Regions from separate parts of the Homo sapiens genome. Here region 1 is linked to region 2. The links come from fine-mapping of genetic effects on gene expression. Tissue or cell type: whole blood. Region 2 holds a variant in brackets; the other region holds the start of a gene. All regions are shown on one strand. Distances are between the middles of the regions.

Region 1 (5,375 bases), 110 kb after region 2:
CTACCAGTAACCGGGTCTTTTTTATTTTTTAATTAAGCTTAAATGGCATTTGCTTAATCAATAATACAGTTTCACTAGAACTAATGCTGCATCCCCAGAAAAGCATCACTTAGAAATTAAACAGCTGGCTGTCTTCCAGGGAAACGTGTCCCTGTGTCCTGCCTTCCTGAGACTTCTTGCCTGCACGCGGGGCCCAGCCGCGCCAGAGAGATGGAAGTGACTTTACCTACCCAGCGAAAGTAGCAGTCTGCAACAAGGAAAACAGCTAAGTTAAGAGGAAGTGGTTTTCATTTTACTGCTTGCAGAAAGGCCAAGATTTTGACGTTTAAAGCGGGCACACGAGTCATTTTAAGTCTCTAGATCTTTCACCCTGAAAGTCCCTGCACAGAAACTCCATAGGGAGTCTAAATATAGCAACAGCACCCCCTCCCGCCCCCTCCGCCTTCAGTCAGGGTCCCGCGCAGCTCTAGGATTGGAGAGCTTACTCCAGGGCGCTCTCTGCATCTGCCTCGAATAGCACCGCACGGAGCAACCTCTCTCGCACCTCCACAGTGCGTGGGTGTGAAGTGTATTAGGGGAAAGCTAGAGAGTGACTCTGGGTGATGGTGCTCGGCTCACAGTCACATGGCGTCGCCGCCAGCTGCACAGAGCTCCCAGCTAGCTTCTGCTGCCCAGAGGCTTGGGGGGAAGGAGGGAGGGAAGCAGGCTCCTGCTGGTGACCAGGAGCAGGCGAGAGGGCTTCACACAAATAATAGTGATAATAAAGAGTAAAAGCAAAGCATTTAAATCGAGCTATTGCAGAAGACAGAAATCAGCTGCCGCGGGCGTGGGTGTGTGTACAGGGTGGGGGAGAATTGGGAAAGTATTTATCTCGGAGGGGCGGAGACAGCTGCAAGAAGACTTTTGTCTTAGCATTGTTTTAGCCTTAGGAAAGGAAAAGGCCCGAAGGAATCCACCTTGCAACTATCTGCTATGTCTTTGTGGTGGAAGCTTAGTTTTGCCTTCAATTTAATTTGATGATTTTCTTTCATATTTGGGGAAGAGCCACTCTGTTGGAAGAAGTCCCCGAGCCTGGCACCCTTCAGTTTTCCCTATGCTGAATGTGAGATTTAAACTGCCTTTTCTTTGTAATACACTGTTTCTGAAGGCCAGAGGCTGCGGCCAGTGGCACCGTGGCCTCTCTCTCCGCCAAGGGCGCATAGGCTTTGGGCCACCCGGGTGCCAGGGGTGGTGGAAGACCCAGTCAGTTGTTCCTTGCAACAGGTCTCTAAGCTTGTATGTTACAACATAAGGTGGGTGGGGTCGGAACCCCGAAAAGCCGGCGTCCTGGACACCCCATCCTCCAGGTGTTCTTTCCCAGACACTGGGTCCTCGCCGCCGCTGCTGAACTTCTCAATCATATGACTTTCTCGGACTTAAATGGAAATTTCTTGACGGAGGGAACTGGGTTTGTTCTCCCAGGCTTCGCGCTGCAGTCAGGCAGAGCCCCGGGGCAGCTCGCTCACCGCGGAGGAGCCACTTTGGAGTTTTACGCCCTTTCCACACCCCACCCATGGACTGGAAAGGATGTTCAGTTACTCGCGAGCTTGTCTGATACTGGGATGGAAAGTCACAGTCCGCAGGCTGGAGTGAGGCGCGGGAAGATGCCTGGTCCTTGCCTCGCGGACTTGGCAGCCGCGTCCTGCGGGTCTGTCCACTGAACTGCTGAGGACTCGCCCGTGTGCGGGGACCCGAGTGCCACTTCCCGGAGCGTTACCTTGCGCTCCAGCCTCCAGGCTAGATAATACCTGGAAGGCAGGGCAGGGCTGTTCCCGCTCTCACCCCTTGCGGAAGGATGGCAGGATCCGGCGCAGCGACGTAGCAGCGGGAGGGCACAGCGACCTGCATCTCCAGTTTCTCCTCAGGACACAAGGCTGACTTCACCTTCCGGACAGCTGCAAAGCCCCTGCCAGAACCAAACCGAACTCGCGCCTCGGAGAGGGGCTTCTGGGGCCGTTTCGCTGCAGGGCGTGGGGAGTGGAGAGAGGGAAGGGGAAGCCTGGGGCTGGGTGTGCGCGCGTGGGAGCGCGCCTCGGAGCGCCCCGCACTCCCCCACTCTATCCCCGGGGGCAGTTTGGGAAGGAGGGAGTGGTAGTCGCGGGAATGAGGGAGCAAGAGAAACCCTCTCAAAGTGACGCCCCAAACAGGTCCGGATTTAGAATTCGAAGCTAAAGGCTGTTAGAAATTGGGACTCCTCGGCCTCCTCTGCAGCCCCTCCTTTCCCGCCCCGAAGCCCGGGCGGTTTGCTGGCTGCCTGCTTCCCCGCCCCCGGCTCAGAGGTCTCTGGCTGGCGGGCGCCCCGTCGGCCGCCGGCTTCCTCCTTGAAACCCGCCGGCGCACATGAGGCCGCTGCCCCCGCCGCAGGCGCTGGCGGCCCCCTCGCGGTGCCCGTGGTGATGCCATGCCCCGCCACCACGCGGGAGGAGAGGAGGGCGGCGCCGCCGGGCTCTGGGTGAAGAGCGGCGCAGCGGCGGCGGCGGCGGGCGGGGGGCGCTTGGGCAGCGGCATGAAGGATGTGGAGTCCGGCCGGGGCAGGGTGCTGCTGAACTCGGCAGCCGCCAGGGGCGACGGCCTGCTACTGCTGGGCACCCGCGCGGCCACGCTCGGTGGCGGCGGCGGTGGCCTGAGGGAGAGCCGCCGGGGCAAGCAGGGGGCCCGGATGAGCCTGCTGGGGAAGCCGCTCTCTTACACGAGTAGCCAGAGCTGCCGGCGCAACGTCAAGTACCGGCGGGTGCAGAACTACCTGTACAACGTGCTGGAGAGACCCCGCGGCTGGGCGTTCATCTACCACGCTTTCGTGTGAGTACCCGCGCCCCCTGCTATGCCCGCTGCAGGGGACCACTGTCCCTGGCCCCCTGGGGCGTGCTCCGCGCTCGCGCCCTTGGGCCCCCGCGCGCGTGCACACGTGGTGGCTTTTATTTCTTCGCACGTGTTCGTGGTCTTCCTTCTGGAGCCTCTCCCCTCCCCCAGCCCCACTTCTCTCATCTCTACAGCTTGAACCTTTTCCCCGAGGACACCCAATGAACTGCCCGGTAGCTTCAGGCTCCCGGGGCGAGAGCCAGGCAGACGCGGGACTTAGGCTGCGCGGATAATTGGGAGCAATTAGGTCCCAAGATACGTAAACTTCAACCGAACGGGGCGCCCGGGAGCTAGGGAATGCAAAGGGAGGACAGGCGCCCGTGTGAGGCTTGAGAGTATACTGGAGAGGTTAGGAGGTGATGGCGGGGTAGGACGGGGAGAAGTGAGGGGGCATCGAGGGCTAGGTCCTCAGTCCTAGGGGCGGAGTAGGGGAAGCTGCTACTTGGAGAGAGCTGCTAGGTTTTAAGCGCGCCCGGAAACACGCCTCGCCACCACCCAGCCACCACCAACGGAAAATCTGTCAGTGCATGTAGCCCTTCCTGCCACGGAGAAGGTGGCCAAGGTCTAGAGGAGGCCAGCAGGCCAGGCGAAGCAACGCTCCCGCGCTGCAGGGGGCGGGGAGGCAGCGGGGAACCTGGGGCGCAGGAACGCGGGCGGAGGTGCGATAGCAGAAGCGCAAATGGGTCGCCTCTGACAGAGATCGGGCAGTGGGTTAAGTCCCCGTTTGTGGCGCGGAGTCAAAGAGTGTGTGTGTGTGTGTGTGTGTGTGTGTGTGTGTGTAGTAAGCCTTCTCCATCTAGCAGAGAATGCTTAATGAGAAAATGATTGGAAGCAAATGTTTATTTTTCCCTTAGGCATTTAAAACCTTTCAGTGGCTTTAAAGTTTACTACTGTTTTTCCCACAAAGTCCATTCATTCAGTCTCCTATTAGAGTTACGTTTATCTGGGCATTTTAAGGTTGTTTTTATAATGTTACCTCGTGTCTAATTCTTTTTTTCTTCCTCTTCTCCTTTTGCTTCCTCTTTTTTTAGTATTATTATTTCTGCTTCTTTTTTGTTAAGATGAAATATAAAGACATCAACCTTAGAAGACCAGTAGAGAAAGTTGCAGATACTCGCTGATACATTCCTTGTTTCCTAGTAAAATAAGTTTTGAGCACACGGACTAGGTTTCTTTTAGAAATAAGTTATGTCATCCATACATAGCTCTCTCCTGGGATGCAGAATTAGCATCAACACCAGAAACGTGTTTTGAAATAACATGGAAGAAGGGCTGGTTTTGTAACTAGGTGAACCTGGAATTCAACCACATAGGAGTCAGGAAATTGGTGGAGTCTACAATCTGTGGGGCTCTGGTGTCTGGAAAATTTTACAGTCCCAGATTGACGTGAACATGTAGCATTAGGCAGAATATTCCAGCCAACTTTCCGTTTTACAATGCACACAAGGAGAACGGTTGTGTTGCATCATCATTACATCAAAAAGTATAACTTTTATGTAAAATTCACATTTATTTAAATGTGGTTAGGATAATGATAGAGAAATGCAACTGACACTTTTCTCGTTAATCTCCTCTGACCTGATATGTAATTAAACATATTACTTAATAAGCCTGGTAAATTATTTTGACCTGTCAGAATATACTAAAATAATTTAGCAATTATAATGCTCAATTTGGTAGCAAATATATATACTGTATAGGTTATGATTTTTTCTTTACAACAGTATGCTCAAAACATTTCTAGCCTTTCTTTTTTTTATATTATGCATTGTATATTCAGAGAGAGTTAAAGAAAGCCTTGGTTGGTGCACATACTTTGCATCTCCTAACTTGTTCTTGAACATGAATGAGAACTTGCAACACAACATTTTCTTTTCCATGTGTTGGTGTTAACAGGTTTGTATGGGCTTACAGAATTTTAAAACATTAATAAATGATTTTTCCAAAGGTTCAAGGTTGGATACTTCTCTGTCTACCAGGCTTTATCAGTCTAGCAGTATCTTTAGTAGTAGACAGGAAATAAATTGTGTACTTAATAGATGTAGCAAATGTGAAGTTTTGATTATACATTTTAGAGTCTGAAACTGCAATGCCTCAGCAATTAGATAGGGGTGCTATATCCACATTAGCACAAAGAGGGAATGGATAGTATCATCTTTTGGGAGGATTGTGCACAACTAAGCAGACCCTGAGGAAAGAGGCCATCTTTGGCAGTTGCTGCTTGTGATTTTAAATGAGCTTTAGAATAGCCAGACTTTACACATTACATTCATTTATCGAAGTTGCTTTATGCTGTAAGTTTAACTAGACCCCAATAAAATAATTTCGAGAGAGGTGTAACTAACTAATTCCCTGCCAGCTTGGGAATCCCCAAATCTTATTTTAATAACAGTATTTGTAGCATATTAAGGTTCTTGCCAAGAACAAGTGCACCGTGATTAATGAGGTACTTCAGGGGTGAATTTACTTGGTCAACC
Region 2 (5,375 bases):
CACTCCATTCTCCTGCCTCAGCCTCCAGAGTAGCTGGGACTACAGGCACCCGCCACCACGCCCGGCTAATTTTCTTGTATTTTTAGTAGAGAAGGAGTTTCACGGTGTTAGCCAAGATGGTCTCTATCTCCTGACCTCATGATGCACACGCCTCGGCCTCCCAAAGTGCTGAGATTACAGGCGTGAGCCACCGCGCCTGGCCATACTTTTTGTTTCTCTGATATAAATGTTCAAGAGTGCAATGATTACATTATAACACATATGCCTGTTTAGTTTTGTAAGGAACTGCCAAACTATTTTCCAAAGTAGCTGTGCCATTTTCCTTTCCTACCAGCGATATACGAGCAATCAGTTTCTCTGCATCCTTGGCAAGATTTGGTATTATCTCTATATTTCATTTTAGCCTTTCTGTTAGGTGTGCAGTGAGATCTCATTGTGGTTTTGTACACTTCAGTGTCTTCAGGGTCTGAAGTGATATTCCCTGTTTTACTCATGATATTGGTAACTTGTGTCTTGATTCTATATTTGTTTGTCTGTGTCGCTAGAGGCTTGTTAATTGTATTATTCTTTTCAAAGAATTGACTTTCTGTTTTGTTGGTTTATTCAATTGTTTTCTGCTTTTAATTTCTTGGAATTTTGCTCTAGTTTTATTATTTCCTCCTTATGCTTGCTCTTAGTTTATTTTGTCCTTTTTCTAGTTTCTAAATATGAGATGATTGATTTGAGACTTTTCTTTTTTTCTAATATAAGCATTTAGTAGTAGAAATTTTCTTCTCAGTGTTGCTTTAGTTACATCCCACAAATTTTGATATATTGTTTTTTCATTTTCATTCAATTTAATGTATTTTGTTTTCTTTGGGACTTCCATTTTTTTGAGATGGAGTTTCACTTTGTCACCCAGGCTGGAGTGCAGTGGTCCCATCTTGGCTCACTGCAACCTCCACCTCCCAGGTTCAAGGGACTCTCCTGCCCCAGCCTCCTGAGTAGCTGGGATTACAGGTGCACGCCAACTCGCCCGGCTAATTTTTGCATTTTTAGTAGAGACAGGGTTTTGCCATGTTGGCCAGGCTGGTCTCGAACTCCTGACCTCAGGTGATCCACCTACCTCGGCCTCCCAAAGTGCTGGATAACAGGCGTGAGCCACCTCACCCGGCTGAGACTTCCTTTTTGACCCACTAATTATTTAGAAATGCATTGCTTAGTTTCCAAGAGTCTAGAATTTTTTCTGTTATATTTATGTTACGCATTGCTGTTTTGATTCTATTATGACCAGAGAACACATTCTGTATGATTTCAATTCTTTTAAATTAGGCAAAATTTGTTTTACAGATGCCAGATACATGATGTTTTGTGATGAATGTTCTATGAATTCTGGAAGGGATGTGAACTCTGCTGTTGTTGAAAGGAGTGTCCTATAAATGCCAATTATATTCTGTTGTTTGGTGGTGGTGTTGACTTTATATGATTACTAATTTTCTCTGTATTTGGTCTATCAACTGTTGAAAAAAGGGCTGAAGTCTCTAATCATAATTGTGAATTTGCCTATTTTTCCTTTCAGTTCTATCATTTTTTGCTTCACATATTTTACAGCTCTGTTTTATGGTGCATCCACATTTAAAATTGCTATATCTTTTTGGTAGACTGATTCCTTTATCACTAATGATTGTCTCTGTCCCTGGTAAACATTTTGTTATGAAGTATACTTTATATGATTTTAATATAGCCATTTCTGCTTTATTTTAATTGATGTTTGCATGATATATTTTTCTGTCCTTTTACTTTCAGTTTATCTATATTGTTATATTTGAAGTTATTTTCTTGTAGACAACACATAGTTATGGTTTTTAATCCATTCTGCCAATCTCCATCTTTTAATTGCTCTACTTATATCATTTACATTTAATGTGATGATTAAATTTTCAGTGCTTCAGCCTGACATTTTGGTTTCTGTGTTCTTGTTGTTATTTTTCTGTTTCTCTTTTTTCTTGACTTCTTGAGGGTTACTTTGAATATTTTTTAGAATTCCATTTTGATTTATCTTGAGGTTGAGTTTTTTTTAGTGTATTTATTTGTATAGTTTTTTTAGTGGTTCTTGTAGGTAGTAGATTATGCGTATATAATGTGTCAGTCTATTGGTATTATCATTTTACCAGTTCAAGTAAAGAACAGAAACTTCATCTTCCTTTATTGTACTCCATTTATAATATATTTGTCTTAAATATTTTCTCTATGTACTTTATAAACGTACAACAGTATAGTTTTTCTTCAACTATCAAATACAATTTCCAAAAATTAAGAGGGAAAGGAAAGTACATTTGATTTTGCACTTTCTATTTTTCTTTGCTCTAAAACCTTTTTTTTTCAATCATCTCTTCCTGTTTAGGAAAATAAATAATTTATCTTCCTGTTTAGGAAAATAAATCATTAAATCATCCTTTAAAATTAGGTCTGCTGGCAATAAATTCTCTTAGTTTTTTTTATCATAAAATATCCTGATTTCTCCTTCACTCTCAAAGGTTTTTTTCACTGACTATAGAAATCTGGGCTAATAATTTTTTCTTTTGGCAATGGAAAAATATTGTTCCACTTTTTTCCAGCCT[C/T]GTGGTTTCTGATGAGAATTTCACTGTCATCTCAATTGTTTTCCCCTTGTTGATAAGATTTTTTTCTCTCTCCTGGTGTTTTCTAAGATTTTTCTCTTTGTCTTCAGTTTCCAGAAATATCATTATGATGTGTCTTGCCATACAGTCCTTTGATTTTTTCCTGTTTGACATTTTCTCAGCTTCTCAAGCCTATAGGTTTATGTCCTTTGCCAAATTTGGGGAAATTTTACCCATTTTTTGAATACTTTTTCAACCACACCTCTCTTTCTTCTCTCCTTCTGGGACTCTGTTAGCATAAATCTTGAATTAGAGTTTCCACAGATCCCTAAGACTTTGTTTATTGTTTTCAGTCTATTTTCTCTGTTTTTCAAGTTGAGTAATCTCCATTGTTTTATTACCATTGTCCTATGTTTAAGTTCAAGTTCTTTCCTCTGTCATCTTCTTTATACTGATAAGCCTATCCATTGACTTTCTAAATTTCAGTTCTTATATTTTTCAGGTCTAAAATTTCTAGTTCATTCCTTTATATATATTTTTTTCTTTTCATTAATTCTTTCTTTTTGCAGAGTCTTTCTATTGATTTGCTGGTACTTTCCATTTTCTTCAAATGCTTCAAACTTATTGAAAGATTTTTATAATGGCTGCTTTAAAATCTTTGTCATGTAATTCCCACATCTATTTAATCTTGGCATTATTATCTGTGATTGTCTTTTCTCATTCAACGCAAAATTTTTCTGTCTTTGTATGATAAGTAATTTAATATTATATCTGGACATTTTGGCTATTATGTTATGAGACTCTGGATCTTATTTAAATTATTTGCCTTAGCAGGCCTCCTCTGACATTGCGCCAGTAGGAAAAGAGGACACTACCTTATTACTGCCATGTGGCAGTGAAAGTACAGGTTGTGCACTTAGCTGCAGTTGATGCCCCAGGAGAGGCTCTTTTCCTAAGCGAATGTGGGAGTTCGGGCTCCACTCTCTTCCTCTACTGACACCATTCTGACTTGGAGTGGGGATAATGTCTCAATTTTGCTTTGGACATAACCTCCACTGACACTGTCAGGATGAGGTTGGGTCTTAGGGAGGGAATAAAAGTTCTCACGTCCCACTCCATTTTCATAGATTCAACCACAGTGATGAAGGGGGCAATATGTTGCAACTTCACAGGCATGGAAGTTTTGTCTCCCCAGTCTTTCTTTGCTATTAGGAGTGTGGAGACAGTCACAGTTTTGTCCAGTGTTTTGCTAGTATAGGGAGAAATGTTATTGTCTAAAAGATTTTTTTCTCTTACTAAGCTGACCCTTTTCTTGTTATTTGACTTGAGATATAAGGCCTTTCTTAGGGCTTTTTACTTATTTATTTGGTCCAGACCCATTGGAGTTTCCAGGTTCCTGATTTTCTACCACACATTAAGGGATATGAAGCAAAAAGAAAATCCAGGGAAGTCACCACCGTGTCATTCTTCAGGTCCCAAGGTGCCTACTAGTTTGCCTTCTTTCCTCCACTTTTCAAATTCTTCCAATGTTTGTTCAATATATGATGTCTGAGGTATTAAGTTTCCTTAGCAGAGGCAATAGAGAGAAGTGCATCTACTCCATCTAATTCCCAGGATAGAGTGAATTTCTCTTGTTATGGTTTTAAATTGCATTTTCCTAATTGCTAGTGATGTAACACATCTTTTTATGTACTTATTTGCCATCTGTATATCCTCTTTGATGAAACACTTCATCAGGTTGTTTGCCAGTTTTCCCTTTTTTTTTTTTTTTTTTTTTTTGAGTTAGGATCTCGTTCTGTCATACAGGCTGGAGTGCAGTAGCGTGATCATAGCTGACTGCAGCTTTGAACTCCTCGGCTCAAGCAATTCTCTCGCCTCATCCTCCCAAGTAACTGGGACTAGAGGCACATGCCACCATGCCTAGCTAATTTTTTTATTTTTTGTACACAGGGTATTGCAATATTGTGCAGGCTGATCTTGAACTCATAGCCTCAGGTGATCTTCCTACCTCGGCCTCCCAAAGTGATGGGATTACAAGCATGAGCCATTCCATCCACCCTGATTTTCTAATCAGTTTATTTAGTTGTTTTCTTTTTCTTTTACTGTTGAGTTCAGATGGTCCTTTGTATTTTCTGGACACAAGTCTTTTGTCAGGTATATGGTTTGCAAATATTTTCTTTTAGTCTGTGGCTTGATTTTCATTCTCTTAATAGAGCCTCAAGAGAAAAAGTTTTAAATTTTGATGAAGGTAATTTCTTAACAGCTTTGAATACTCAGACTATTAAAAAGTTCTCCTACAAAAGTGCCTTAATTGAACACATGGCAGAAAGAATTGTTAGAGATGTTTATAATGCCCTGAGAAGGCTCTGGATCATAAAATAGTCATTAAGTGACCATTCCCCTAAAAGAGAGCATGGGCTGTGAGATAGGTTTTCTGAGATATCTATTACTTACTAGCTGTGTGACCTTAACAAATTACTTAACTTATTTGGATCTCAATTTTTTCATCTTTGAAAAAGGAATGATAATTGTAACAACTATATCATTATTATAAGTTAGAATTTTAAAACATGTATTAATTTTTCCAGAGAACATTAAAATTGTTTTTCAGAGTTGAAAACACAGCTGATTGAAATTTGAATATAAATGTTTTTAAAATTTAAATTAATTCTGTAATTTTTCACTTTAAAGATATTCTAATCTCCCCTCAGAATTGGTTATGCCACTCCATTGATTCAAGTTTTCTTTTATATTTTTTAGTAAATCATTATACTTTTT

Evidence for each region. PIP is the estimated chance that this variant, and not a neighbour inherited with it, causes the effect.
Region 1: KCNQ5 starts here. The variant in region 2 is fine-mapped to the expression of KCNQ5 in whole blood (TOPMed, PIP above 0.99).

What each region holds. Positions count from the first base shown.
Region 1 is chr6:72,619,750-72,625,124 of GRCh38, forward strand. It overlaps KCNQ5 (potassium voltage-gated channel subfamily Q member 5), which reads left to right and starts at 2,315. Exons shown (of 14, transcript NM_019842.4): 1 at 2,315-2,838. The coding sequence starts at 2,441. It overlaps KCNQ5-DT (KCNQ5 divergent transcript), which reads right to left and starts at 2,930. Exons shown (of 3, transcript NR_186827.1): 1 at 2,783-2,930. RefSeq lists enhancers at 700-889, 3,000-3,951 and silencers at 2,310-2,569, 3,600-3,649.
Region 2 is chr6:72,513,146-72,518,520 of GRCh38, forward strand. No RefSeq gene overlaps it. Among named protein-coding and RNA genes, the nearest start is that of KCNQ5, 110 kb to the right of the region's middle. The variant C/T (reference allele first, on the strand shown) is at 2,601.